Linked DNA regions of Homo sapiens: region 1 is linked to region 2. The links come from fine-mapping of genetic effects on gene expression. A gene starts in region 2. The other region holds a variant in brackets. All regions are shown on one strand. Distances are from middle to middle. Region 1 has its middle 59 kb from the start of FOXD2. Region 2 holds the start of TAL1 (TAL bHLH transcription factor 1, erythroid differentiation factor).

Region 1 (11,277 bases), 270 kb after region 2:
AGCCACACAGGGACAAGATTCTTTTCTCATCTGTTCTCTGAATCTCCCACAGGACACCCAGCATGTGGCTTTGCTAAGCCAGGGCACTGGGAGTCCCTGCAGCTGCTGGAGTGGGTGGTGACAGCCAGAGAGGCCTGTGAGAGCCCACAGTGCTGGGATGCCCACTCTCCCATGGCCTCTCTGGGCCAGTGCCCAGCCAGCTGTCTGCAGCCCTGGGACATGTCTCTCGAGTCGCATAGTATTGAAAGGTTGATCTCCCCATTAGAAGGGATTTGTCAGCACGAGCTGGGGCTTAGCAGCCTAAGCCGTGGGTCTGAAGGCTCAGACAGGTTCAGGGCCCAGAGGAGCTGACTCAGGCCTGACTCCCCCGGGAATCAGGGAAAGGCCACCAGCTAAGACCGCCAGGGGTCAGAGTCAGGATGAATTGCTCGATGTCCCCAGGGGCACTGCCAAAGCCACTGTCATTCCCACTATTCTTCCTGGGGTCTAGGAGCAAGCTCCAGTGCCCTAGCCTGGCATGCAAAGCCGGGCAAAGCCCCATGGCTCATCTGGGAGCTCACCCTGCATGCTCTCTCTGGGACATTTCCTCTTTTCCTGTGGTGTTGGATACCATCTGTACACCAGCAGTCCCCAAACTTCCTCCAGACCGCCCTCCTGAGTCCACCTGACAGTTTACCTGATGTCTCCACTGGGATGACCCATAATCTTCTCCAACTGAATGCATCCAAAATGGGACTCCCATCCTCTCCACAAAGCCACCTGAGTCAGCCAAACATAGCTAACTTTCACCATTTCACTCTTCCTTGTGTGTCAACTCACTTCAGTACTTTCAACAGCCTTGTGGGTAAGGACCTGCTCCGCCCATTTACAGATGAGGAAACTGAGGAAGGGGAAATTACATCACGTAACACTTGCACTGTCCTGGCTCACTGAGTCAGTAAACTTGGAATCCGCCTGAAACAACTGCACCTCCATCCTTCCTCCCTGCCATGACTCCACCCCGGCTGCTGTCACTGTTCCTTCAAATGACTCTGACAGTTGCCTAGTAGGTCTCCACTTTTGTTCCCTCTAGCCCATTCTCTCCCAGAGCAAATCAAGTGACTGTTAAAAAAAAGTACAGAGCTGATTTTGTCACTTCTCTTGGTTCTTAGGCTAAAACCCAAACTCCTTAACATGCTCTGCCAGTCCCCGTGCAGCATGGCTCCTGGGTCTGCCTTCCTGGCTTGTCTTCTGTGTCCTCTGTGTCCCTGGTCCTGTGTCACTCAGCACACGCCAACCCCACTGTCTTTCTTTCAGTTCCTCGACTGTGACAAGCTCTTCCCAACCTCAGGGCCCTGTTATGCGCTGCGTCTTCTCCTTGGGATACTCCTCCATTGCCTAGTTTATCATCATTCTTCAGGTTTCAGTTTAAATGCCACTTCCTCAGGGGAGCCTTCTTTGACTTCTTTTCAGGTGTCACCCTCTCTCATGGCTCTCCTACTGCTCCCGAACTTAATGTTGACAAAAAATAGCCAAACTGCAATTAATGAGTTCTTTGCCCCTTACTTGTTAGACCCATGGCTTCCCTGCTGGGTCATAAGGCCCATGAGGGCAGAGACTAAGTCTGTGTGGCCCAGAGCTGTATCCCTAGCATAGCATCTGACACATAGTGGGTGCCCCGTAAGGGCTGGTGAATGAGCAAATCACCTTCTCAGCCTTTCTTTTCATCTGGTCCCTATTGTTCTCCTAAACTGCTTTCCTTATTTCCCTTGACACAGCTGTGCCCATTCCAGTCTCCTTGCCTTTGCTCGTGCTGTTCCTACTGCCTGATGTCCTGCCACCTCTCTCCACTCACCCACAACCTACCAGTCCTTCAAGATAACTCTATGGCCTCTACTCCTCCAGGAGGCCTTCCCTCTGCACACTAACAGGTTAAGTGTCTCTCATTCTTCTCGTGGTCCTGTGCTATTTCTCCTCCAATATGGCCCCTGCAAGAATCCTTGACCTAAGCTCCATGCAGGCAGGGACCAAGCCTTCTTTTCAGTGCCCTCCCCAAAAGGGGTGAGCTCCGAGCTTGGGCACAAGAAGCAGCAAGTAAAGATGGTAATCTGCTGTTTCCACTTCTCTTGGTCTTTTAGGTTCCACTGGAAGGTGAACCTCTCCCTGCCTCACCTCCCCAACTAAGACCACCTGAGTGCACTTCTCATGCACTAGATTCCATGAACAGGCCTGACTGTGAGAAAGCAGAGGCAGTGGAAAAGCAAGGGTTTGGGAGTCACATAAATCTATACTAAACTCCTATTTCTATGAGGTTCAACCATAATGAAGTTGCCATTTCCATTAGGTTGAACTGTATGAAGTAGGCCAAAGATGATTGAATATCAAGTTTCATGTGGCTCAATTTAATATGTAATCTCAGGCAGTTGGTCTGATGTCTTTTAGACTTAGTTTCTTCATCTGTGAAATGGGAGGAGTAGAGCCTCATTTACGGAGTTGCAGAGAGGAGAAAATAAAGCTGTGTATCATTATGGGTCAAAGTTTGAGTTCTGGAGGCAAGGCTCAGTTTGAACCGTGGATCCCCCATCTTATCGGGGTTCCTAATTGCAAACAACAGAGTCCATTATGGCTAGTTTAAGCAGAACAAGGATTTATTACAGGATGTTGGGCAGCTTACAGAAATCCCTGGAGGGTCCTGGGAAAAAGGCCTGACCAAACCATGAGGACATTTTTAGTGAAAACACCACTGCCTGGTCACTCAGTCCCTATAGCATTTAGGGCTGGATACCAGAAGTTCCACCACTGCTGTTCCAAAGAACTGGATGCCTTTGCAACTGCCCTGGTCATAAGATCATTTGCCCCACCTGGCTGCCTCCTTCTTCTGAATCTAGGTTTCACCCAGGTGTGTCTGATTCATGGCACCTGGGTCATATGTCTGATCCTGAGCCACAAAGAGGTCTGGGGATGAGAATTTTCTGGCTTCTACCTGGAGAATGTTGGACTCAGAATGGAGAAAGGAAGGGCATTGAATGGCCACAACTATGTGCTATTTCTTTTTACTAGCTGTGTGATCATGGGTAAGTAACTTATCCTTTCTGAGCCTGAGTTTTCTAATAGGTAGTATCTATGTCACAGGATTTTGAGGATTAAATGCACGGATTTGTGAAACGCCTTTAGAAGAGAGCCTGGCATATAGCAAACCCTCAATAGATGCTAACTCTATTTTTATATTATTATTTAATATGGATTTGAGACCTCTTGGCACAAAGCCTAGCACGGAGAAGATGCTCTTTAAGTGTTTGTTGAATGAAAACCCTTGGCTGAGATATTAGTGTTCAGAATTCCTCTAGCTGGCCGAGAGCATCACAGACAGCTAGAACCAGTGGTGTGCTGCACCAGTGCGAGCCCATTGGTAACTTTTCAGAAATTTCACGAGCTAGTTAATATCATATTGGTAGCTTGAAATCTGCCTCTCTGGGGGAATTTACACTAGGGAAATTGGCAAACACTATAAATTGGGGCTCTCCTCTCCCTACAAATGGCAACTTTATCTGGTTAAACCTTTACCTGCACATCACAGGCTGATACAGGGTATGAAGTATATAAAGTGCCTAGCACCATGCCATCTCTTTTGGGCCCTTCAAATATGGTCCTTCTCTCTAGTTAGCAAATTCTTAGGATCAACTTTATTTTTCAGGTGTCAGGGAAAATAGATGAACCCCTGGATTCATGGACTTTTCATGGTTTCCTTGGTGGATACCTCTTTTGTATTGATGAATTTCCACCAGACAGGGAGTTCTTTTCAGAATAGGCACCAACACTGGGCACAAGGTCTAGCTAGCACTCAATAGTCCAGGAGGCATGGGTGGAATGGCTCCGTGGATGAGATTTCTGCAGCTGGAACCCTTTCCCTTCCCACACTGGTTGGCAACACTCTCTCCTTTCCTGGTGCCTCCTAGAGGGGCATCACCACTCCTGTTTTCCTTTTGCCATGTGGATCATATAAGAAGGGAGTGTGGTGGAGGCTGGGGAGTGAGAGGGGACGCTTGAATGTTGGGGGTTGGGGGGCTGCCTCCTGCATTAGAAACATTCCTTTGATTGCTCTGTGCAGCTCAGCAGGCTGCCTGGCTTAAGACGAAAAGAAGGGAGAGGCAAACACCCTTCATTTTAATTAAAGCCAACTTTACATTGTTATTCCATTTGCCTGTGTTGTTGCACGAGCTTACAATAAAGTTATATGGCACCCCCAGGGCAGCTTGAGCTGCGTGATAGAATGTGTCTAAGTTCAGCACTCCCCGACTATACTCAGCTTCTTTGCAGGGAGAACCACAGCCAGTCTCATGTCCTTTCTGGGGCTCTAAGCGATCACTCAGGCTCAGACCTGTGAGCAACACTTTTATTTATATTTCACGTTTCAAAAACGTTTATTTAGTACTTTCTATGTGCCCAGCAGTGAGCTAGGTGCTGAGTCTACCCCTGACACATTGCTGTGCTTCCAGGGTACACATGCTCCAGTCTCCAGGATCTGTCCCTGACCAATCTCCTGAGATGTGGAGCTCCATGTGATCACCCCCAACTCTCTCCTCAAATGCTTATTTTGGTCTTTCTTCTTTTGCTCTGTGGTGGCATCAGCGATTCAGCTAAGCAATCCATTATATTTAGCAATTCTCTAAGTTCTTTCACATCTGACATCTCTGATTCTCACCACACTCCCATCCAGATCCTGCCTGCTCTTCAAGCCTCAGTGCAAATACTGCCTCCTCACTGTAGCCTTTTCCGGCCACACCTTTCTCTAGTCCTCTTTGCTGCCTTTTTGTGGATTTCATCACAAATTTTAAAACTGATTTTATTTTATGTTTTAGAAACAGGGTGTCACTCTGTTGCCCCAGGCTGGAGTCCAGTGGTGCACTTATAGTTCACTGCAGTCTCGAACTCCTGGGCTCAAGCAGCCCTCCTGCCTCAGCCTCCTAAAGTGCTGAGATTATAGGTGTGAGCCACTGCGCCTGGCACCCCCTCCTTTTTTTTTTAAATTAAGGTATATTTTACATACCGTGAAATGTAGGGATCTTAAGTGTGGTTTGATGAACTTTGACAAATGTACACACCTATGTAACCATGACCTCAATCAAGCCAGGACATTTTCATCACCCAGTAAGTGCCCTCATTACCTTTCCCAATCA[A/G]TTCTACCCTCCAGATGCAAACACTGTTCTGACTTCTAACACTAGAGATTAGTTTTTTTTTTTTTTTTAAGATGGAGTCTCACTCTGTCAGCCAGGCTGGAGTGCAGTGGTGCGATCTCAGCTCACTGCAACCCCCACCTCTGGGGTTCAAGCGATTCTCCTGCCTCAGCCTCCCCAGTAGCTGGGATTACAGGCACCCACCATCACCCCCGGCTAATTTCTGTATTTTTAGTAGGGACGTGGTTTCACTATGTTGGCCAGGCTGGTCTCAAACTCCTGACCTCAGGTGATCTGCCCACCTTGGCCTCCCAAAGTGCTGAGATTACATGGATGAGCCACCACGCCCGGCTGAGATTAGTTTTTGCTTGTCAAACTCTTGTGTCTGGCTTCTTTTGCTTAATGTTTTTGAGCTTCATCCATGTTATTGGTAGATTAGTGGGTAGTTCTTTGTGACAGCTGAATTGTATCGCATTTAATGGATATACCACATTTTGTTTATTCATTTATTTGGGTTATGCACAGTTTTGGACTATTATGAATAAGGCTGCTATAAACATTTCTTATACAAGAGAAATGGACATATGTCTTTATTTCTTGGGTAAATACTCAGCAGTGGAATTGCTGGGTTGAGTAGATGTATTTTTAACTTTATATAAAATTACCAAAGAGGTTGTATCATTTTACACTCCCACCAGCAATATATGAGCATTTTTTTCCTTCCTTCCTTCCCTCCCTCCCTCCTTTCCTCCTTCCTTCCTTCCTTCCTTCTTCCCTTCCTTTTTTTTTTTTTTTTTTTTTGACAGTTTCACTCTGCTGTCCAGGCTGTAGTGCAGTGGCACAATCACAGCTCACTGAAGTCTCAAACTCCTGACTTTAGGTGATCCTCTCACCTCAGCCTCCCAAGTAGTTGGAATTACAGGAGTGCATCACCATGCTTGGCTGGTTTAAATTTTGTTTGTTTGTTTGTTTTTGGAGAGATGGGGTCCCACCATGTTACCCAGGTTAGTCTTCAACTCCTGGGCACAAGCGATCCTCCTGCCTTAGCCTCCCAGAGTGTTGAGATTATAGGCATGAGCCACTGTTCCTGGCCTATATGAGCATTATGAGCATTTTGATTGCTTCACATCCTTGCCAACATTTGCTGTTGTCAGCCTTTTATCATTTCAGCTATTCTAGTGGGTGTGTAGTTACATCTCTTTGTCATTTTAACTTGAATTTACAGATGATTAATGACGTTGAGTACTTTTTAATGCACTCACTGGCTATTTGTATATCTTTTGTGAAGTGATTATTCAAGTGTTTGCCCAGTTTTTATTGGATTGTCATTTTATTATGAATTCCTTACATATTCTAAATATAATATGTAATATAAGGTGGCCATATTGATTTTCTTTTATCTTTTTTTTCTTTTTTTACAGTCCAGAGGTCTCTTATTTTTAACACCTGTTATGCCATACATTCATAGGGAAGAGGTTCCAGCAGCTCCGGTTCCTTTTCATTGGTTCTCACAAAGTGTGCTTCCCTGGGTGGAGCAGGCTGGTGCTTCTGCTAAACCCAGGTACCTTTCTCTTTGGTTCCTTCTTTTCCTGATCATTTTCCTTCACACATTTCAGGAAGCTATTTTGGCTCTTAGAGTGCTCAATATGCACATTAATTCTCTTGGCAAGAATCTTGCCCAATAAGTTAACTAACTAATGCTGAGTGACACTGTAGACTCTTCCAGTTTGCCATGGTTAACATTTGTGAGGTATTGCTTTTTGAACAGTGCCCATTTCCTTGATGTCTACAATATTGCCTTTCTTACAGATTCACGTGTATTCAAAGGAACAACTCCATGTTTCCTAAAAGGCCTAGAGAATATGTATCAGGTGCCTCTCCTCTTTCCCTTTATGTTGTTTTGGTGAATTACTGGAAGATGGAGGTTAAGGCCGAGAGGCTTAATCATATTTTTTGATGAATAAAAGTTTAAAATTTGATCAGGTCTGATTTAATAATTTCTTATCTTATGGCTAGTGATTTTCTTGTGTCCTAAGAAATTTTTGCCTAGTCCAAAATCACAAATATATTCCCCCATGTTTTCTTCTAGAAGTTTTATAGTTTTCACTTTTAAGTTTAGGTCTAGAATCAATTTTGAATAATTAATTTTTGGTATGGGGTTGAGGTAGTAGTTGAGGTTCAGTTTCCCCCATATAGTTATCTAGTTGTTCTAGTACTATTTTTTGAAGGGACTTTCTTTTCCCTATTAAATTGACTTGGTCAAAAATCAGTTGATATGTGTGGATCTATTTTGGACTCTGTTCTGTTGACCTGTTTGTCTACGCTTATGCCGGTTCCAACTTTTTGATTATTGTAGCTTTATGGTAACTCTTGAAATCAAGCAGTCTTAAGTTCCTGATCTTAGGGAAAAAAGAGCTTAATATTTCGTTATTGTCATGTTAGTTGTATGTTTTTCACATTAAAAAATCAGATTGAGAAAGTCCTCTTCTATTTTTAGATTGCTGAGAATTTGGATTGTAGAGGGGTATTGAACTTCATCAAATTATTTTTCAGCCCATATTGAGATGATCATTTGATTTTTCTCCTTCATTGTATTAATTTGGAAAATTGTACAAGCCACCTGTATTCTTGAGATAAGCCCCACTTGGTCATTCTATCTGTCTGTCTATCTATCTATCTATCTATCTATCTATCTATCTATCTATCTATCTATGTATTGATCTATTATATATCATATATAAATATATGTAACCAAATTTGATTTGACAGTACTTTTAAAAAGATTTTTGTGTTTATGTTTTTGAGGGGTATTGGTGTATAATTTTCTTTCTTATAATAATTAGGCCTGGTTTTGGTTATTAGAATTACACTAATCTCATATAATAAATTGGAAAGTGCCCCCTCCGCCTATATTTTCTGAAAGAGTTTATGTAAGTTTTGTATTATTTATTCATTAAATGTTTGAAAGAATTCACTATTGCAAACACCTGGAGTTTTATTTGTGGGAATTAAAAAAATTATGAATGCAATTTCTTTAAAGACATAGGGCTAATTCAGATTTTCTATTTCTTCTTGTGTCAGTATTGGCAATTTGTGTCTTTCAAAAAATGTGTTCATTGCACCTAAGTTGTTGAATTAACTAGCATAAAATTGTACGTAATATTCTATCACTTTAATGTCTGTAGTGATGTCTTTTCTTTTATTTCTGATGTTGGCAATTTGTGTCTTCTCTTTTTTTTTCCTTGATCAGTCTAGCTAGAGGCATATCAATTTTATTAATCTCATCAGAGAATCAGTTTTGGTTTAATTGGTTTTCTTTATTATTTATTTTCTATTTCAGTAAGTTTTACTCATCGTCAACATTTGTTTCCCCTTCTTTACTCCTCTTTTTTTATATTCTTAAAATGGCAATTTAGATCATGGATTTTAAATTATTCTTATCTTTTAATATAAACATTTAAAGTTTAAAAATTTCCTATACAAATAACTTTAGCTACATTCCACAAATTTTTGTTGTTTTTTTTTCATTATAATTCAATGCTCATGTCCTTACTCCATTCATGTCTGTGGTCAACCATCAGTTTCTTAGAGTCTTTCCCTTATCAGTTCATATAGAATAGCCCCTTTACCCTTACCAGCCTTACTTACTTTACTCTGTCTTATTTTTTATTCTGCCTTATTTTTTATAGCACCTAATACTTATTTATTATAATAAATACCTAATATTTATTATATTTGTATAACAACTTTACTCTGCTTTTTTATAACACCTTATATCACTATAATGTATTTATATATCACATTATACATATATAATATATATGATATGAGATTATGGCATGTAATAATTTATTTGTTCTTCTTTTTATTATCTGTCTTCTCCACTAAGCTCCTTGAAGGCAGGGACTATTTATTTTGTTTGGTGATGTATCTCAGTACTTTAGAAGAGCCCCATAAATATTTGTCGAATGAAGAAATAGAAAAATTATTTGACACCTTGTGCGAATAATCCCTTCTCAGAAACCTTACCTGGCAGTTTCCTTTAATTCTCAGAGAAGTTCACCTCACTTGTTTATACTCTTTTTGTACTTGCTTATACTTTATCATTGACTACAACTGGATCATTATTGTCTGTTTCTGTCTCCCCCAATGACCACCTGCCCAAGGACAAGGACTATGTCTTTATTCACCAGTGCTCAATACAGAGCCTGGCACAGAAGAGACTAGCAAATGTGTGACAAATGAATAAATGAAGTGTCATCAATCACTCCTGCCTTGCAAATCATCTGTGAACTAGACTTGGCTGTTAGACCAGAAGGCCTTCCCGTAAATCTGGAAGACATGAACTAGCAAAAGCTTTTAAGTTTATAAGATAGTGTTGTTTGTCTGTGATTTGGGCAATGAAACAAGTCTGCACCATGCTTTTCAGTTTATAAAGCTCTTTCCTATACATTATCACATTGGACCTTCACAACATACATGGGAAGAAGGCATTATTATCCTCATTTTTTGGATGAGGAAGCACAAGCTTAGAAAGGTGAAACCATGTAGCCAGGAACTGGAGAATTTGAGACTGGATCCAAGGTTTCTGAAATCTCCAGTCTCTTCCCAGCCAATGGAAGGAAGCATGTGCTTGACCTGGGGGCAAGATGAGTTCCAAGGCCTCATGGCCAGGTGTTATAAGGTTTGGCATCCAGTAAGCTGATGGGCCCATCAGGGGTGAAGGTGCTTGCGTAGCTGAAGTACACACTGAACTTGGGTTTCGTTGCTTTGATCCATAGACACAGCCTTATGTAGGGAAAAGAGCTCTTGGATTTTATTATTTATTTATTTATGTATTTATTTATTTATTTATTTATTTATTTTTGAGACAAGGCCTGGCTCTGTCACCCTGGCTGGAGTGCAGTGGTGCGATCTCAGCTGCTGCAACCTCCACCTCCTGGGCTCAGGCCATCCTCCCATGCCAGCCTCCCGAGTAGCTGGGACTACAGGCATGCACCACTTATTGGATTTTAAAACTGACGTCTCTCTATTATTAGTTAAGAACCTTGGACAAATGACTTCTCTCTGAGCCTTGGTTTTCACATCTCTAGAATGGAGCTTAAATACCCACCACCTAGAGTTGCTGTGAGAGTGACAGGAGAGATTCACGTAAGTGGATTTTGTAGGGACTCTTATAAAGTAGCTCCTCTGCCTTAGATAATTTTCACTGGTCCCTAAAATGCCCTTGTATTCATAGTATTCTCCCTGGCGGTTTATTTCTCATTGATATTGGACACCAGAACAAGGGAAGGGTGGCACAGCTCGATGGCGAATCTGTAAACTGTCATTGTTCCATCATATCTGAGCTCCCAGCAGTTAAGCAATGGCTCTGGCCCCATGCTGACTGCCTGGGGATGAGGTCAGTGGGTAACAAACCACAGCACTTACTGACCACTGATCATAATGACAGCTATCATTTACCGACTGCTATTTATTATTTATTCTGCTCAGAGAAAGGATCTGAGCCCAAATTCCCTGGCTAGGTCCTAAAGGTCCTTCTTCCAGATCATCTCAGTTGTCTTTCCTCTAATCTTTGGGAAGCTAGATCCTGCTCCCTGTACTTCATCTCTGGCTGTGGTCCTATTTCAGCTCAAACCCTCCTCTGGGTCCCTTCCTCTAATATCAGTAGCAGCATAGATGGAATATGGCATGATTTGATTCCAACTAACCTTACCATCTGCCTTTCCTGCCACTTCGAGTCTACAGCCTACACATTGGTCTGTTACTGCCTTTCCTGGAACTTGGCCAACACCATCCTTCCTCTAGGTTTCTGCCTATGCTGTTCCTTTTGCCTGGAACATCCTTCACCAAATCTCTACTGGCTCTTGACGACAGGTCTCTGCCCAGCTTGATGATTTTGCCAAGACCACTTAAACCTGTTAAAATCTGACCTATTTTGCTTAGATGGACCATGAGTCCTGTAAACTCCAGTGCATCTAGGATAAGGATGCCAAATTCAGCAAAAAAAAAAAAAAAAATAATAATAATAATAATAATTAATAAATACATACAGGGCTTCCAGTCAAATTTGAATTTCAGATAAATAACAAATTGTTTTAATATAAGTATGTCTGTACAATAT
Region 2 (11,277 bases):
AGACACCGGAAGAAAAGGAATACAGCCAGCGACAGAAACACAGAAGGGGAAATCAGGAGGAAGGAAATGTACAAGGAGGCAAGAAAGAGATTACTCTGTCCCCTTTCTCAGGCCTAAAGGGAAGAGGAGGGAACAAATTCCGGATCGTGCTCTTTGGTTTTAGCGGGGAATCTGTCAGGCAGGGGTTCGTTGCTTTAGGAACCTCCCTTGGCCTCTCAGCAATATTCCCAGCCCACCTACAGGCACACACCCAGAAACCCGGTGCGGATGGAAGTAGGGAATTAGAAAGTGGAGGCTACGGGGACTGGGATCCACTCCGCCAGAGCTGGCAGAGAATAATCCCGAGGAACCAGCTCCCTCCACACACACACACACACACATTCGCCCCCGCTGGGGAGTGAGGGAGTGTCTGTCTACACTGAGCAAATCCACTGTGAGTCCTCTGCCCGCCCAGCGGATCTTTACTCCCACTCAGACAGAGATGAGAGGTCGCCAAGGGAAGAAGATGGTGCTGGCCCAACCTCCCTGCACAGTCCACCTCGTTCTGCTCAGCTGGACTCTGAAGTGAGGTCGAGTCTCAAAGAGAGGCCTGGCTGAGGTAGAATGGAGCTGGGCATTTGAAGGGTTCCCTGAGGCCAGTGGGGTCTGGACTCCCATCCAAGAGCAGGACAGGATGTCATGAGGCCCTTGAACTCTTCCAGCCCCCCTCACCGCCATCTCCTGCCTTGGTGTTCTTTGGGAAATGGGAGGAATACCTCCTTTATGCATTTGAAAGTGCTGTGCAAACGTTCAAGTAAACATTATTAACAAGGAGAATGGGCCAGTGAGAAAACTGCCTGGCCGAATGTCAAGTCACTCACAGCCTATCTGTGAGAGAGCCAGACCAGAGCAATAATCTCACTTTGCTCAACCCTCCTGTATTCCCAGAGCAGTGAAACCACCTTGTGACCCCACAAGCATACTCCGAGATGACCACAGCCACTCTACTTCCCACAGGTGTGCTGGGGCTCTTCCATCACCTGGCTTCATCCAGATAGAGCTGGGCACCAGCAAGAACCAAAACAGAAAAATCAGGAGACTCAAGGGCCAGAGTTTGTGAGTTGTGAGTTGTACATATATGATCAACACCACATAAGTTGTTTAAAATAAGCTTTCTGCTCTCTGAATTATATAATTGGGTATTTAAAAGAAGAAAACAAATACAAAAAAACAATTTACCCCCATGCAGAGTCCATCTAAATCATACATAGCAGCCATTGAGCTCCCATACTGCCACTGCAATGCTCTGGACAGGAGTCATCCTAGGAACCATCCCTCCCACCCCAGAAGGGAGAATGGATCATCTGCAGCCTCCTCTGGAGCTTGGCTCAATTGCCACTAGACACCCAGGATGACAGAGAGTCAAGATTCAGACTGCTGTACACCTTCTTTGGGAATGCCAGCCCCCCAGGTCTGGCACAGAAACCACAAAATTCCCTAAGTCCTGGTGTATACAAGCTGTAAAGGCAGTAGGTCCCTGACACTTCATTGGAAGTGAGTTTATGATTTTGGTGGAGACAATAGGTCTCTATCCATAGAATGCAACCACCAAGACACCAAGGCCACTGGAAATGCACCAGAAGTATATCAGCCAGGTCCTCTTGCTCCCAGCAGCAGCGAAATGTGCCAGAAATATACCAACCCCTGGGAAACATACAAGCTTCAAGGTATTGGTTCCCTACCTCACTGCTCTCCGTCCTGACACACCGGTGTGAGCCCAGTGATCCATGCTTAAGCCCCAGCTTCTAACCGAGTGACAGTGTGCACTGCAGTTGCAGACTGAGCTCAAGCTCTGTTATGACACATTTTTACCCTCCAATTAATTCTTAGGCTCCTGCTCTAGCGGTGGATTCCTGAGAGGCAATGGGAGTACATATTCCAGATGAATTGACCCTGGCCACAAATGTCCTCTCCAGACACCTATAAATATCCCATCGCCAAGGTTCCTTGTAAGAAATATATGATTGGATCCCAGGATCTGTGGAGGACCTCTCCCGGCTCCTCCCCACATTTTAGGAAAATCCTGCCGGTTTAGGATTACCAGCCAGAGGTCCATGCCCCAAAGAAGCCACTCACAAACACTGATGGTTGTTGGCGACTAAGCTGCATCACTTGATTTGGATTACAGAAAGGAACGCCCGAGAGATTTTGTTTGTTTTTATTTGGGGAGAATGAAGGAGGAGGGAGATTTTAGACTGAATCGTTCTAGAGTATTTGACGACTACAGCTCCTCTCTCTTTGTACTACGGAGACCCTGCTTATAGCCCCCAACAGGAAATCCTCATCTGCAGTTGCCAGACAGCCAGAATATTTCCACCTGTGCCAGAACAAGACAGAAGACCCCAGGAGATTCTTCCTGGGGACAGGTCTCAAGCAGACCCAATCCCCCATACAGAGAATTTCTTAGATGAAAACAGCCTCAGGCCCTTAGACCCAGCCTCTGGTCTCTCTTCTGGGCCCACACCAGCACAACACCCTGGAGAAGCCCCAAGCCTGCACAAGTACCAAACCCACCAGGGAACAGCACCACCATCCTCGCCTCTACCGGAGAAGAGGGGTGTTCCTGCCTCCCCACCCTAGGCCTCAGGCCTGGGATCAGGGCCCACTCGAGCTGGGACTGCACTAGCCAGGAAGGCTGCCGCCTTCCTCCTGCGGGAGCTCCAGGCACAGTCTGTACCACCCGGATACAGCCGCCCCAAAGTTACCGGCCTTGGGAAACGTCCACAGAACCGGGACCAATGGGAAAGGCCTGGACGACTAAGTCCAACTAGCTGGTTTTACCCTGGGTGGAAAAGGGAAAAAGCCGCTGAATGCCACAGAGGCAGCTACAGCAGTCAGATCCCGATTCCAAGCTCTGGCTGGTCCTCCCCTCCCCCCACCCCCAATCTGAGAATGGGCTCTCCTCTGTCCTGAGCCTTCCTCACCCCAGGCCGGAACACAAGGCCTTCCTAGACACCGTTTCCACCGGCACCATTCCCCTGAAAACTCACCTGGGGCATATTTAGAGAGACCGGCCCCTCTGAATAGGATCTCCACTCCGCCGGAAAGGGGCGGAAGCCGAGGAAGAGGATGCACACCCGGGTCTTTGCTTTCCCCCTTTTTCGCTGAGAGGCCTGCAGTTACGCTGCGGTGTGGTCCTGGGCGATCTGCCGCGCCCAAAGCGAGTTTCCAGGAAAGATAGGGGTGGAGAGAAAGAGGCAGGGCAAGAGGGAGGGAGAGAGAGAAATGGGGGTCAATGGCTGGGAATTACCTCCTGTCCCCGACCAACCAGTCCAGGGAATCGCAAACAGCTTTCCGCCCCCAACCTGCAGGTGTTTGGAGCCTTTCCTCTACCCCCTCCTCCCCCCACCCGCCTTAAAAAACCCTATACATGACCAATCAGGAATAGCTATTTAGTCCAACAGCAACAACAACCCCTCCCGACAGGCTGTCTGGAACATTTTCGAACCCTCCAACTGGGATCGGTCTGGTTCAGTGTTTGTTTTCTAAGCAGGGAGGTGTCTACGCGGTTGCCTCCTCAGCCAGGTCTCCGGCTGCCGCTACACCGCGAAGGGATAGTCCCGGGCCTGGATGGGCGGAGGTCCGTGTTGGGAAAGGCGAATAGTCTTCAGACTCTGGTCGGTGGGACAGAACCTTGAAGTCCCCCCCACCTCATTCTCTCTCTGACCCCCATCCACCCACCTCCAGCCCAAAGCGAAACCAGAACCCAATTCCAGGGGCTGTACTTTCCTACAGAAATGGAGTTGGGAAGGGGGCTTGGAGAGAGATATCTGATCTGTTCAGGTCCTTTCTCGTCTCCCTACTGATTAAGAGAAAGAAGAAAGAGAGAGGAAGAGAGAGACAGAAAAAGAAAAGGAAATAAAGACCAACAAAGGGGGAAAGAAAGAAACAAAGGGGAAAAGTCCCCCACCTTCCCCTCCACCACCCCTACGAAATGATTTTCGATTTTTCGGGGTTTAGACAGAGTAAGGGAGAATTCTAATGATTTGTTACAGCAATAAACAAGGTAAAAGGAAAGGAGGTAAAAACAAACCCGACACTACTTTCAAGGATGTAGCAGGATTGAGCTTGCTTTTATTTTTTCCTAGTGGATTTTGTTTAATTTGTTTTGCCTAAATCGTCAGGCTTATGATCACACATCGAAGTCTTGGATTAACTGCGAAGGCCTCCTTCTATTTGCCGCGGCTTTGGTGGACATATAGGAATAATTCTTCCCTGGATTGCAATACAATGCGGAAGATTTTCTTTCTCCTCTTCTAATCCAAAAGAGGGGAGGGGAGGAAAGAAGAGGGGAATCCATCCATTCCCGGCGTGTTCGCGGGGGGTTAATGTTGCGTGTTCGCTGGGGGTTAATGTTTGCCTTATGACCAAGTCTCTGTGTCCGTGCCTCTCTCCATTTTCTCTTCCTACCTCAAACCCAGCAACTTAGAAAACGGCTGTAGCGGAAAAAAACCCGCTGCTTTGTTCTCCCGCCAAAGGAGCCAAAAGGGACAAACTGCTGCGCTCTGGGATGATTATTTTAATTAAAATAGATGTTAATGATGACGATTGTGATGGTGATGGCATTAGCAATTACAATAATTGACAAAACAAAATTCTTTCAACCCGAGCTAGGGCCCCACTAACCCGGTCCCTCCCAGAGCCCGGATTCGGCCTCGGTCTCGGATGCGACGGGTATCAGACCCAAGCGGCAACGTCGCTCACCCGAAGAGGGGGCGGGAAAATCTTCCCAGGAGGTGATCCCGAATGTCCCCACCCGAGGCTCGAGGCCTGGTGAATGTGCCCATTGTCCTTTCGGGGCCTCTCCCTTGGAGCCCGGCGGCCGCACCCACGAAACTGACCAGAAATGGATGAAGCCGGAGTGCAGCGGGAACCGAAGCCCGCAGCTACCGGCTCGAAGGCGCCGGCCTCGGCGAGCGCTGCTCAGCTTCAAGCCTGGAGGAGCCTCCCACTCACCAACGAACCCCTCAAACACCTAGGCACAGGCGGGCCTCCGGGCAGAGCAGCCGCCGACCGGGCGCTGTCCGCCCACCCAAGCCAACAACTGGCTCCCGAATACATCATAATTTGGAATAAAATGTGAAATCCCGCTCCCCGCCCCCATGCCGCCGCCCCCACCAGCGCCTCGATCTCTCGCTCGCCCTCCCCCCACTCCCGCCCCCAGCGATTTGCAAACGCACCTCTAAAGGACACAGGCACACAGGCATACAACTCAGTGCGGACAGGACCACACAGGGTCCAGCCCCACAGAAGGGCAGCAAACAAACACCACCTAGCACTGCCCCAGAAGCCGACTTGGTCAGCCCCGCACACTGCCCAACAGGACACAACGAAATCAGTCAAACGCAGCGGCTCACGGACACACAATCCAGCACAGTCGGGATCACACACGCCCGACATAACGACGACACCACCCAAACACAGTCGCAGGGGCCACACACCCCCACACACAGAATCAGATCCCTGCTGAGAACACCAACGGAGCACAATCGTACGCAACGAAGAAAACGCAGAAGGGCCTCGAAGGGTCCACATCTACACACCCCAACCGCGCAGGCACACCACACTCGGACACAGAGCCTGTCGCCAAGAAGACCACACTTAGAAGCAGCCAACGCCGCCCACAGTTCTCATGAACGCACTCTCACAATCCCACCGCATGCACACAACCACGAAGAAGAAATGAAAACCAACCACAGCCTCGCGCATTTCTGTATATTGCGTAAGGAAAAGGGGGAAGGAAGGAAGAGAGTCTCCGAGGCGGGAGGGGCGGCGGCAGCCGGGGCGGGGGCGTCCGTGGAAAATGCCCCCCCACCGCCCCCCCCGGCCATCGAAAGGAACCGAGGGAAAGGGAGCGAAGACCTCTTTTGCGGACGTGGGGAAAAAGAGGAGGAAATTGATGAAGAATTCGGTGGGAGGCCGCGGGTTGCTTTTCCCCTAGAAAAAGGCCAGAATGCTCACGTTTTTCCGCTACGGGGGTACGCGTGTGGCCATTTTGAGGCCCGGTCCTGAGCGGCGGCGGCCCGGCCCCTCCCGCGGCCCCCGCTCCCCCGCCCGCCCCGCGCCCGCCCGGCCCCTCCACCGACGCGCTGTAATCCCACTCACGTTCCAGGCCTCGTTAGCATGGGCCGAGGCGCGCCGGGGCCGTGTGCGCCGCAGAGATAAGGCACTGCCGCGGGTCCGCCCGCCCCCGATAAGCGCCTCGGCCATTATGGGCCAAATGATTCATTTTAATTTGGCAATTTCACCGGAGGGAGTGGGGACTGGTTGAGCGGCGCTAGGACCGGCTCCGGAACGCGCTGCGGGGAGCGTTGGACGCGCTGTCTAGGACCCAGCAGATCCAGCCCCCATCTCTAATCCCAAGGCCTCTCAGGAACCCCAGCTTCCCACAACCTCAGTCCCTTAACCTTTCAGACACCTTTCTTCAGCGACTCTCACCCCAGCACTCTGTCCCTACCTCTGAAGACCACCATGATACCAAAATCGTCACCTCCCAGGGCTTCTTTCTTATTCTTCCTCCAGTGTCCCAGACACCCAGATTTCAATGGGCAGTCTCCCTATCCCAGAAAGCTCCCCAGCCCTTCCCTACCTCTTCACCCCCTTCTAAAATAGAGCCGGTAACTCAAATCCATGGGCTCTACGGCGGCCTGGCAGAACCCCTGTCAATAGGGACATAAAATGCCTATTCTGCTAGGTTTCAGGCTGAGCCCAGAGCCCAGGAACACTGCTCCCCACATGGTATTTAAAAAAAAAAAAAAAGTTTAATCTAGCGACTGTAACACTATTCTAGGCATTCTGCAAATACTAATCTACTCTTCACAAACAGTCCTGAGAAGCTGGATCCTTAATTTACAGAAGAGAAAACTGAGGCACAGAAAGTCAAAGTAACTTTTCGAATGATACATAGCTAGTGCTTGGTGGAGTCTGCCTTGGAAGGAAATTTGACACGGAGTCTTCTCTGCGGCTCAGCTGATGAAGAGGGGCAGCCAAAACCTAGCCAGGGAAAGGGACCTGGGCTCAACTCATTGCAGAGACCAGGGTCTTTACTGTGGGGTAGAAATCTGAGTTCAGTGCCAGCTGGATGATGCGCTCAGCCCACGGAGGGTCTCTGGGTTCATTCTTTCATGGTGGAGTGGAAAGAACACATGTTCGAATTTTAGTCACTGATCTCTGAACCTCAGTTTTCTCATTTGTAAAATGGGGAGATAATGTCGACGTCACAAAGTTATGAGAACTAACTTATATGACCTTTAAAAGGTGGTGGTGAGGATAATAATGTATGGAACGTCACTCAGTCCACAGCCCAGGAAAACATCATATGCACTTGCATGGGAGTTCTGGTTATCATCATAGAGAAAGAAATTAAGACACAGAGAGATGTGACTTAGCCAAAACTTACAGTAACCCAAAGGAAAAGCCAGGACCCAAACTTTGGTGTCCAATTCCCAGTCCACAACTCTACTTTCCATGCCAGGCTGATTTGTCCTTCTAGTGTCTCTGCTTTTGAGCTTTTTTTGGAGCCTGAGAACTGGGGGAAAACCCCTACTCTGGTAACAAACTGAGTCCCAGTCAAAGACTGAGCAGAGAGCATGGCCCCAGTCTGGGATCTGGCTTCTCCTTGGTCATCAGGTTGACCCTCTGAGAAGATACAGTTAATTCAGTGCCGCCTGTCCCCTCTGTTCCTCCTGTGCTCTCTGAAGGAAGTCAGGCTGTCATGGGGATACAGATAACTCTCACAGAATCCCACATCCTAAGAAAAAGTCTAGTTCCCCCCTACCATAAGGCCTTTGCTTGGCTCCATCACTTATTAGAAAATGAGAGTCATATAATTCTGAGTCTGAAACACAACTCTGCCATTCCTGGGCTGTGGGACCCTTAGAGAAGTGATTTCATGTCTCTGAGCCACTGTAAAAACAGGCTAGCCATTCCCATATGGGAGAGCCCAGGTGGGGACTGCTTCTCTGAGAAAATGAGGCCTGGACTGAGATCTAAGAGTGAAATTTGGGGGTGCGAAGAAGGGGGGTGGGGAGAAGCATCAGTATCCAGAACCTTCCAGGTGGGCTGAGGAAACAGCTGGACCAAGGGCTAGAACAGAAGGGTGGTAGGTTCGTGAAAAGAATAGAAAAGTGTCCAGTATGGCTGGAGCATGCTTGTGGACAAGTTAAAAGATTTTTTGACATTTTTTTGTTTGTTTGGTTTGAAGGTGGGGGTGGTACCTTGTATAGAATAAGATTTGCATTTCTAGAAAGTTCTTTGGATGAAGTGTGGAGGGGGAAGGACTCTGGGAGGCCAGTTGTGGAGCCAATGCAGTGGTTAGGGGAAGCGGATTAGAGCTTGGACCACTGTGCTGGCAGAAGAGATGACAAGAGGCAAGTGAAGATGACATGTATTTGGGGTATAAAACTGGGTTTATAATAATTGGATTTGGGCCAGGCATGGTGGCTCATGCCTCTAATCCCAGCACTTTGGGAGGCCCAGGCAGGCGGGTCACGAGGTCAAGAGATCGAGACCATCCTGGCCAACATGATGAAACCCTGTCTCCACTAAAAATACAAAAATTAGCTGGGTGTGGCAGCGCACGCCTGTAGTCTCAGCTACTCAGGAGGCTGAGGCAGGAGAATCACCTGAACCCAGGAGGCAGAGGTTGCAGTGAGCCGAGATCGCGACACTGCACTCCAGCCTGGCGACAGAGCGAGACTCTGTCTCAAACAAACAAACAAAAAAAGAATTGGGTTTGGGGGGATGAGGGAGAGGAAGGAATCCAGGAAAACCCCTGGGTTTCTGGCTGTCCTGCAGAGCTAGTGGTGGTTATTCCTGGAGATGGGGAACCTGGAGGCTGAGGGGACATGGGGAGGGCTTATATATTTGGTTTTGAACTCCTTAAGTTTAGATGCCTTTGAGACACCTGCAGACTGTTGGATTATTTTACAGGGCATTAAATGTCCCCAGCCAGCACCTCCAAGGAAAGTGTCCTTTCCTGTGGTGAAGGAATATGGACAGGTGGAAAGGCGTTTCTCAGCCCTGTGGCAGAGGGTGTGCCCAGGCCTCTGTCTGTGGAGCGAGGAGGTGACGTTCACCAACCCTCCAATTCCACACATTTGTTCTCTGCCAAGCTCCAGATTCTGACAGTCAGGCAGCCACTCCCGACCTCATCCACCAAAGCCCTGCCAGGGGCTGGGGTCTCATGACGTCTACATCTGCCCCCTCCCCTGTTTCCGATGGTCAGTGGAAAAACGGAAGCTGTGCGCTAAGCGGGGCGCTGCCTGAAATAGCATCTGGTGCCTGTCGGTCAGCGAGTTGTCCGAGCGTCCACGAGAGAGTGACAGGCCGGGGCCAGCCAGGAAATGCCACCCCTCCTCCACCCGCCCCAAACGGAGGCCCCAGTCGGGCAGGAAACCCGGAGCGCCTGGGGTGGGGGTGGCGAGGAGGGAGGGGAGGTTGAGACCCAGACTGGTAAGTCTGGAGTCTGGAACTGGGGCAGCAAGAGCAGGGGACAAGAACAGGCTAGCTAGGCTCTGGCCCTGAGGCCGTTGTTCCCCACCACCAAAGGTTGGGTTCTCCCTAAACCCCAAAGCCAAGCCTCTTACCATTTTTCAAGTGTTTCTGCCTGCCCTCTCTGAGTACTGGACTATCTCTGAGCTTCTCCCCCGAGCTTCTTCTCCGGAAAGATGCCATGCATGCACTCTGATGAGCAGCCGAGTTTATTTTTAACAAATCTACACTGCAGTTACTGTGTGACAAGTACTGTCCTAGGCACTTTGTAAGTATTAATTCAGTTAATCCTTGCAAGAACCTAATGAAGTAGGGACTACTCCATTTTGTAGGTAGCACAGAGAGGTTGAGCAACTTGCAGAGAACACCCAGCAGGTAAGTGGTGGAGGCAAAATTCACACCTAGGGCAGTCTGGCTTCAGGCCACAGTGCTTCGAAAGCAGCAAAGCAAGCACAATGGTCAGGCAGACCTGAGCTCCTATCCCTGCTCCCCTAGTTGCCAGCTGTATGATACCAGGCAAATTACTTAATCTCTGAGGTTCACTTTCCTTATTTGCAGAAGAGAGGTGCTCATTTTCCATACATAATACTGTTTATATAAGGATTATTTTTAATGAGGAAAATTTCAATTTGAGGAAATGTCATTATTTCCCTCTTCCACTTTCAAAGGACTATTCTCTCCATTTTTGCCTCTGTCTCTTGCCCTGGAAGAACCCCTACCCCATCAGTAAGCAGGCCTCAAGAATTCCGAGCTTGGGAGTCACGTCTGTGCTTCCAAACCCCAACGCTGCTGTCAGAATTCTCAGGGATGGAAGGAACTTCACTCTCAGTGGCTCTCAAAGTGGATGGTCAGCATCACCGAGGAACCTGTTAGAAAAGCAAATTCTCAGGCCTCACCCCAGGCCTACTACTACTACTCTGAGGGTGAGGCCCAGCAATTTGTTTTCACAAGCCTTCCTGATGATTTCTGACACACACACAAAATTTGAGAACCACTTCTCTAGTTTACAACCCCCATCTGTAGCAAAGGCCAAAGTAAAATTGTGTTAAGAAAACACCGTGCTTTTTTTTTTTTTTGAGACAGAGTTTCACTCTGTCTCCCAGGCTGGAATACAATGGTGTGATCTCGGCTCACTGCAACCTCTGCCTCCTGGGTTCAAGCAATTCTCCTGCCTCAGCCTCCTGAGTAGCTGGGACTACAGGTGCATGCCGCCACACCCAGCTAATTTTTTTTTTTTTTTTTTTTTGAGACAGAGTCTCCCTCTGTCACCCAGGCTGGAGTGCAATGGCACAATTTTGGCTCACCACAACCTCTGCCTCATGAGTTCAAGCAATTCTTGTGCCTCAGCCTCCCAAGAAGCTGGGACTACAGGCATGCATCACCACGCCCAGCTAATTACTTATATTTTTAGTAGAGACAGGGTTTTACCATGTTGGCCAGGCTGGTCTCGAACTCCTGACTTCAGGTGATCCGCCCGCCTTGGCCTTCCAAAGTGCTGGGATTACAGGCATGAGCCACCACACCCGGCCTTTTTTGTATTTTTAATAGAGATGAAGTTTCACCATGTTAGCCAGGCTGGTCTCAAACTCCTGACCTCAGGTGATCTGCCGATCTCAGCCTCCCAAAGTGCTGGGATTACAGGCATGAGCCACCGCCCCCGGCCTGTGCTTTTTAATGTTTCAAAGCCATTTCCCTTTCCCTAACCCATGCGGAAGACCAAAGCATACAGAAGACCGAAGTTGCTTT

What was found. PIP is the estimated chance that this variant, and not a neighbour inherited with it, causes the effect. A credible set is the group of variants that fine-mapping cannot tell apart.
Region 1: its variant is the best candidate, but not a certain one, in a credible set for the expression of TAL1 in whole blood (INTERVAL, PIP 0.86).

The regions. Positions count from the first base shown.
Region 1 is chr1:47,491,290-47,502,566 of GRCh38, forward strand. It overlaps the pseudogene RPL21P24. Among named protein-coding and RNA genes, the nearest start is that of FOXD2, 59 kb to the left of the region's middle. The variant A/G (reference allele first, on the strand shown) is at 5,157.
Region 2 is chr1:47,226,167-47,237,443 of GRCh38, forward strand. TAL1 (TAL bHLH transcription factor 1, erythroid differentiation factor) reads right to left here and starts at 6,059. Exons shown (of 5, transcript NM_001290403.2): 1 at 6,001-6,059; 2 at 3,030-3,185. RefSeq lists enhancers at 2,165-3,126, 3,127-4,088, 4,281-5,254, 5,255-6,228.